Linked DNA regions of Homo sapiens. The protein of the gene in region 1 interacts with the protein of each later gene in a pairwise test. Each region holds a gene or a part of one and is shown on either strand. Other genes may lie near its edges. The genes, in order: TCF25 and NEK2.

Evidence for each region.
Region 2: the proteins of TCF25 (region 1) and NEK2 interact in a two-hybrid assay, tested with the Homo sapiens proteins (one large-scale study listed by BioGRID and IntAct).

The regions. Positions count from the first base shown.
Region 1 is NC_000016.10:89,876,483-89,880,305, forward strand, and holds part of TCF25 (ribosome quality control complex subunit TCF25), read left to right. Parts: intron 1-3,823. UniProt on the Homo sapiens protein: Component of the ribosome quality control complex (RQC), a ribosome-associated complex that mediates ubiquitination and extraction of incompletely synthesized nascent chains for proteasomal degradation.
Region 2 is NC_000001.11:211,662,215-211,665,887, forward strand, and holds the end of NEK2 (serine/threonine-protein kinase Nek2), read right to left. Parts: intron 1,439-3,673; coding exon 1,212-1,438; 3' UTR 558-1,211; downstream 1-557. UniProt on the Homo sapiens protein: Protein kinase which is involved in the control of centrosome separation and bipolar spindle formation in mitotic cells and chromatin condensation in meiotic cells.

The DNA.
Region 1 (3,823 bases):
TAAACTCCTGGGCTCAAGAGATCCTTCCGCCTTGGCCTCCCAAAGTGCTGGAATTGCAGCTCCCAGTACTTTGGGAGGTGGGCAGATCACCTGAGGTCAGGAGTTCGAGAGCAGCCTGGCCAACATGGTGAAACCCCATCTCTACTAAGAATACAAAAATTGGGCCAGGCGTGGTGGCACATGCCTGTATTCCCAGCACTTTGGGAGGCCGACGTGGGCGGATCATGAGGTCAGGAGATCCAGACCATCCTGGCTAACACGGTGAAACCCCGCCTCTACTAAAGAAGTACAAAAAAATTAGCCGGGTGTGGCGGCGGGAGCCTATAGTCCCAGCTACTCAGGAGGCTGAGGCAGGAGAATGGCGTGAACCCAGGAGGCGGAGCTTGCAGTGAGCTGAGATCGTGCCACTGCACTCCAGCCTGGGCAACAGAGCGAGACTCCATCTAAAAAAAAAAAAAAAAAAAAAAAAATTGGCCAGGCATGGTGGTGGGTGCCTGTAATCCCAGCTACTTGGGAGGCTGAGGCAGGAGAATTGCTTGAACCCAGGAGGTGGAGGTTGCAATGAACTGAGATTGTGCCACCAGGCTCCAGCCCGGGCAATACAGCGAGACTCTGTCTCAAAAAAATAAATAAATAAATAAATAAATAAATCGTAATAATAATTATGGATTTGTCTATTTCTACTTTCAACCCTGTCAGTTTTTGCTGTGTGTGGGTGTGTGTGTGTTTTGGTTTTTTGGAGACAGAGTCTCGCTCTATTGCCCAGGCTGGAGTTCAATGTCACAATTATAACTCACTGTAATCTTGAACTCCTGGGCTCAAACCATCCTCCCACCTCAGCCTCCCAAGTAGGTGGAACTATAAGTGGGTGTCACCACACCTGGCTAATTTTTTCAATTTTTTTTGAAAGCCAGTGTGCTGGGATTATAGATGTGAGCTACCATGCCTGGCCTAGAATCTTTTCTGAACTGATTGGTAATGAAAATAGCAACCTATCAAAATTTGTGGGATGCAACTGAAACGATGATTAGAACTTTATCATCGTAAATTTTAAATTAGAAAAGTGTTTAAAAATCTAGAAATTTACCTGAAACTTCTACCTTAAACTAGAAAAAGAGCAAATTAAACTCAAAATGTGTCGAAGGAAGAAACTAATCAAAGAGGGGAATGCACAGAATAGAGTATGGACACGATGGAGAGAATCGGTGAGACCGAAACTTGGTTCTCTCAAAAGACGAGTTGGCAAAAACTCTAGATTGACTGATGGAGGGAAAAAGGGAAGGTCCAGGTACGTTACCATTTTCAGGGATGGGAGAGGAGTGTTCACAGGTACAGATGGTGCAGATAGTAACGGGCGATAAGGAACTTCTTGCTAATAAATTTTCCAGATTAGACAAATGGGCAAGTTCCTTTAAAGATAAAACTTATCTAAATTGACATGTGAAGAAATAAAAAAATCTGAGCCCTTTTATCTATTAAAGATACTGAATTTTTTAAAGTATAAAACATTCCAGGCTAGGGTTGGTGGCTGACACCTGTAATCCCATCACTTTGGGAGGTCAAGGCAGATCCATCACTTGAGCTCAGGTGTGTGAGACCAGCCTGGGCAATGTGGCAAAACCCCATCTCTACAAACAATACAAAAAAACTGTCCAAGTATAGTGGCACTCACCTGTGGTCACAGCTACTCGGGAGGCTGAGACGGGAGGATGGCTTGAACCCAGGAGGTCGAGGCTGCAGTGAGGTGAGATGACGCCACCGTACTCCAGCCTGGGTGACAAAGTGAGACCCTGTCTCAAAAAAAAAAAAAAGACAACCTCAGGCTGGGTGCGGTGGCTCATGCCGGTAATCCCAGCACTGTGGGAGGCCAAGGCGGGTGGACCACCTGAGGTCAGGAGTTCGAGACCAGCCTGGCCGACATGGTGAAACTCCGTCTCTATTAAAAATCACCATTTTTTTTTTTTTTTTTTTTTTTTAGGAAAAATGGACATTTTCCTCTCCCCCTAAAAAAAGATAAAACTCCTTCCTGGTTATTAACTGAAATGCTGATCGAGCTTTATCCTAAAGAAGATCAGTCGTGGACAAGAACCTTGTGAAATGTTCCCCATTTGAGACCCTAAAACTAATGAAAATCACAGCTTTTGGGTAGGTAATAAGGTGTTTTGTTTTGTTTTTTGAGACGGAGTCTTGCGCTGTCGCCCAGGCTGGAGTGCAGTGGCACCATCTCAGCTCACTGCAAGCTCTGCCTCCTGGATTCACTCCATTGTCCAGCCTCAGCCTCCTGAGTAGCTGGGACTACAGGCGCCCACCACCACGCCCGGCAAGTTTTTTTGTATTTTTAGTAGAGACGGGGTTTCACCGTGTTAGCGAGGATGGTCTTGATCTCCTGACCTCGCCATCTGCCCACCTCTGCCTCCCAAAGTGCTGGGATTACAGGCGTGAGCCACCGCGCCCAGCCAGTAATAAGGTTTGTCTGACGGTGATTGACAGCATTTTAGAGCTGATGCATGGCAGTAGAGATTGCAGCAAATCATGTGTCATCACCAAAACTTCACTGAAGAAGCAAAACTAGGCCTGTCACCCGTGCTGTCTGTGTACACAGATGGGCTTCAGAGCCTGTCACACGTGTTGTCCGTGTACACAGATGGGCTTCGGGGCCTGTCATACGTGCTGTTCGTGTACACAGACGGGCTCCTGGGCCTATCACCCGTGCTGTCCGTGTACACAGATGGGCTTCGGGGCCTGTCACACGTGTTGTCCGTGTGCACAGATGGGCTTCGGGGCCTGTCACACGTGTTGTCCGTGTACACAGACGGGCTTCAGAGCCTGTCACACGTGCTGTTCGTGTACACAGACGGGCTCCTGGGCCTGTCACACGTGCTGTCCGTGTACACAGATGGGCTTCGGAGCCTGTCACACGTGTTGTCCGTGTACACAGATGGGCTTCGGGGCCTGTCACACGTGTTGTCCGTGTACACAGATGGGCTTCGGGGCCTGTCACACGTGTTGTCCGTGTGCACAGATGGGCTTCGGGGCCTGTCACACGTGTTGTCCGTGTGCACAGATGGGCTTCGGGGCCTGTCACACGTGTTGTCCGTGTGCACAGATGGGCTTCGGGGCCTGTCACACGTGTTGTCCGTGTGCACAGATGGGCTTCGGGGCCTGTCACACGTGTTGTCCGTGTGCACAGATGGGCTTCGGGGCCTGTCACACGTGTTGTCCGTGTGCACAGATGGGCTTCGGGGCCTGTCACACGTGTTGTCCGTGTGCACAGATGGGCTTCGGGGCCTGTCACACGTGTTGTCCGTGTGCACAGATGGGCTTCGGGGCCTGTCACACGTGTTGTCCGTGTGCACAGATGGGCTTCGGGGCCTGTCACACGTGTTGTCCGTGTGCACAGATGGGCTTCGGAGCCTGTCACACGTGTTGTCCGTGTACACAGACAGGCTCCTGGGCCTATCATGTGTGCTGTCTTTGTAAACAGTCAGGATCCCAGGACTATCACGCGTGCTGTCCATGTACACAGGCAGGCTCCTGAGCCCATCACACGTGCTGTCCGTGTACACAGATGGGCTTCAGAGCCTGTCACACGTGTTGTCCATGTACACAGACAGGCTCCCGGGCCTATCATGTGTGCTGTCTGTGTACACAGGCAGGCTCCTGAGCCCATCACGCGTGCTGTCCGTGTACACAGGCTCCTTTCCATTGAAGTTCAGCTTGGCATAGAGCTTTTTATGAATTCGATTTGTCAAACACCTCAAAATAAGAATTTTTTTTCTTAGGAAGTCAGCATGAGTTAATAAAAGTAAATTGGGTGTTGGCC
Region 2 (3,673 bases), on another chromosome or scaffold:
TCCTGTATACAGCTGAAACGGCACTAATCCCTAACCTCAAATTCGGCTTTCAGGATTTTAACATCTGGGATTTTAATCTTTCAGGATTGTGATTTTGGAAGTTCACACATTAGGGATTCTGATCTTTTGGGATTTAAGACATTAGGGATTTTGGTCTTTCAGGATTTTCGCATTTGAGATTGTATCATTCAGGATTATGATCCAAACCCATGGACATTTTGTTGTCAGCAGCTGTCCTGTGCATTGTAAAATGTTTACAGTGTCCCTGGCCTGTACCCACTAGCAGCCAGTAGCACCCTACCCCAAATCATGACAATCAAAAATGCCCCCAGACATTGCCAAACGTCTCTTGAGGAGCAAAATCACCCTGTTAAGGACCACTGGCTTACATACATGGATTAATGAGATGGGAGGTAAAGCGCCATACAGTTTAGGACTGGAATGCCACTCCCTTGAGCATCAGATCCATGTTTCCTTCTGTACCCTACAATGAAGACCTACAAATCATAAACACAACTCCCATCAACTAAGAGACCAACAAATGCAAGACACATAACTACAGGGAAACTGAAGAATTCTTTTATTTAGTGGGAAAGAAGTAGGTAAATGACAGACAGCTCATATTCTGTTAAACAGAAAAAAAAAAAGAATACAAACATCACAGTGATGAATTTTCACAAAGCTAACAGATTTGAACTACAGAGCAATGGAATATTTATAAGCAAGATGTCATGGTATTAATGACCAAATTGCATCTAACTGGGTTTTCTAAGCTCAAAAACATTTAAAATCTCAGACTTAAAATTTAAATCTAGACATGACAATTGTAAGCATACCACTCAGTCATTTAAAACTATTCAGTGAGTGCTACTCTTCCTGCATAAATATTTTTTTCCTAACATTATTTTTTCTCCCAAGATTTAGAATGTCACATCTCATGTTCCTACTAGTAATCACACACAGGATTAAAAGCCCAACCAAGAAAGTATTCTTTTTATAATATGTTCTTAAAAGAAGAAAGAAAAATTAAATGTGAACATTTTGTACAATAGTTGCTGAAGAACAGTAAAACCAATTCCGAAATATCATGTGTACTATACAGAAAGGCATGGCTCATGGAACCAAGTATTCAACACTACAGCATTTGAATATCAGTCTTTAAAGGTTGGTAATATTACATCCTGTACACAGCTCTGTGTCTCTCTACCTGGCTAGCGCATGCCCAGGATCTGTCTGCTTTTCAGTTGGTAATTTTTCTCAATATCTGACAGGGCTTGAGCCCGCAGCTGGGCAGCGTGAAGCCTTTTCTTCAGGTCCTTGCACTTGGACTTAGATGTGAGCTGACTCTCAGAATTCTCACTCCTCATGATGTTCTCTTTACTTTCCCCACTGAAATGAACTTTCTTCTTAATTACTGAGGATGGAAGATTAAGAAGTTCTTTAGAAGGAAAAAGAAAAAGGGCTCTGAGTTACTTGAACAGAGTTCAACTCCTTCATACTTATACTTATCAAAAAGTATTTGCTCTTATGGCTCACATTTGAAATCTAGGTGCCTGTTTTATTTTCTCTGGGATAGGAGGTTAGGGGTGTAGGACTTGCAGAAATCAGCCTTTTAATCCACAGCATTGAAAAAATAATATTGGAATGTGCCAAAATTCAAGGAACATAAGTTTTATTCTCTTAACAACCAACAATCAATTTTACTCTTAAACACACTGAGTATTATGGACAACATAAAACTTTTGGAAATCAATGTTATTTATCTCTGTCCTTGAAAATAAGTGCCATTCTATGCAGAACACCTTACCTACAGAAAAGTGTAGAAGCAGAGGTTTTTTTCTGTCTTTGTTTTTTTTTTTTTTTTTAAATAGAGAACACCTACAGTTTTGGTTAAATGTTCAAGAACACTTAGTTCAAAGCATCTTAATGGACGAGAAATCTGTTTCCAAAAAATCTAAACAAATTCAGTGTGGAAAAGGTAAATCAAGTAAGAGTAGTAAAAACTGTAAACTATTCTTTACATGGAAAAAATAAATAATAATCATATTTACTTAAAGTGGCAACACTATTAACTGCTGACAGAATTACTGGGGGCTGGAGGCTTACAGATTCTAGAATCCTTTTATTTTTTGTGTTAAAGGAAATATGTTCGAATATTTACTGAGCTCATAGGATGGGCCACTGTGAACCAAACAAAGGCCCTATTCTAGTAGGAGGAGATAAACCAAACACAAACAAACAAGTACTGGTGGGGAATATTTGATGGTAATACGTGCTATTAGGAAAAATAGCTCTGGAAACAGGGACATGCTGGGTGCTGGGTGCTGGGTGTAATGATACAAAGCCTCATACAGCATTTCTGAAGTAAGAAGCCACAGGGCTGTCTGGATGAAGAGTGCTCCAGGCAGAAGAAATAGGAAAGGCTGGCACACAGATGCACTGCCTTCCAAGGGTCCTGTGACTTCCCGCTTCATACGTCGCTTCTGCTTCAAAGCAAACTGGATTGCTTTTAGACCTTATCTCCACTGTTTCAACTCTATCCACCTTCTTATTACCACAAATACCTTTACATTTGTAAGTCAACATTGTCTTACTAATGGGATAGTTTTATTTTGTTTTTGTTTTTGTCTGAGATGGGGTCTTGCCATGTTTTCCAGGCTGGAGTGCAGTGGCTAGTCACAGGTGCAGCTGTAGTGCACTACAGCCTTGGACGCCTCGGCTTAAGTGATCTTCCTGCCTGAGCCCCAGAGTAGCTGGGACTATAGGTGCGTCACCACACTTGGCTCTTAATGGGACAGTTTTATAAGAAAGAAAGTGTTTTAAAAACATTTTTAAAATTCTTCCATTAAATAGAAGAATGAATATTTCATCAAATACGAAAAGAACAGCTTTTAAAAAAGACACTGCTGCTTGCTGTGATGATTTCAATATACTTGTGATGGCTTCCTCACGTGTGGATTTTATAGCCCAAGGATGGGGAGAGAATATTTCCAACTGTCCTGAGTTCAGAATGGTACCCGCTCCCCACTGCTATGATGCTTATCTTATAGCTCTGATGTGTTCACTACTTTCAGCACTCAATACCCTAAAATGTCTGCTTGCCCCAGTGGATACTTGATTCCTATGGCTCATTTTAAATATTTGCCATGATTCACATATAAGTAGATTCCCATACTTATCTGTGTATCCTATAAAGTAAAACACATCATCCTTACTTAGCTATTTTCATCTTTTGCTCAAAGACTATCAGGGCAAATGTAAATAAACTCTTTAACCGAACAGCCATCCCCAACAGGGTCTTAAGTAATTCTCTGCAATGGGTTTGATGCATGAAATTCATCCAGGTAAAATTTTCTCCTCATTTTATCACCCTAATCATGATTTAAGTCTATTTTGTCTTTATGGATGACAGTGTGGAATCTATGAAAAGCCAGAATAAATATTTTTATAATATTGAAATGGTAGACTGCAATATTGGGAAAAAAGAAGGTATTTTAACAGAGATGAAGCCAAAGTTTCATATAATCCTTGTTTCATTTACTTCTATCAGTAGTTTCATTTCTTTCCATCACTTATTCACTACAAAGTTATTGTGATCATCAATCTAACTTAAGTAGGGTTTTTTGTCTGTTCCATTTACAAAATGCTGCCAATGCTCACTAAATTGATCACA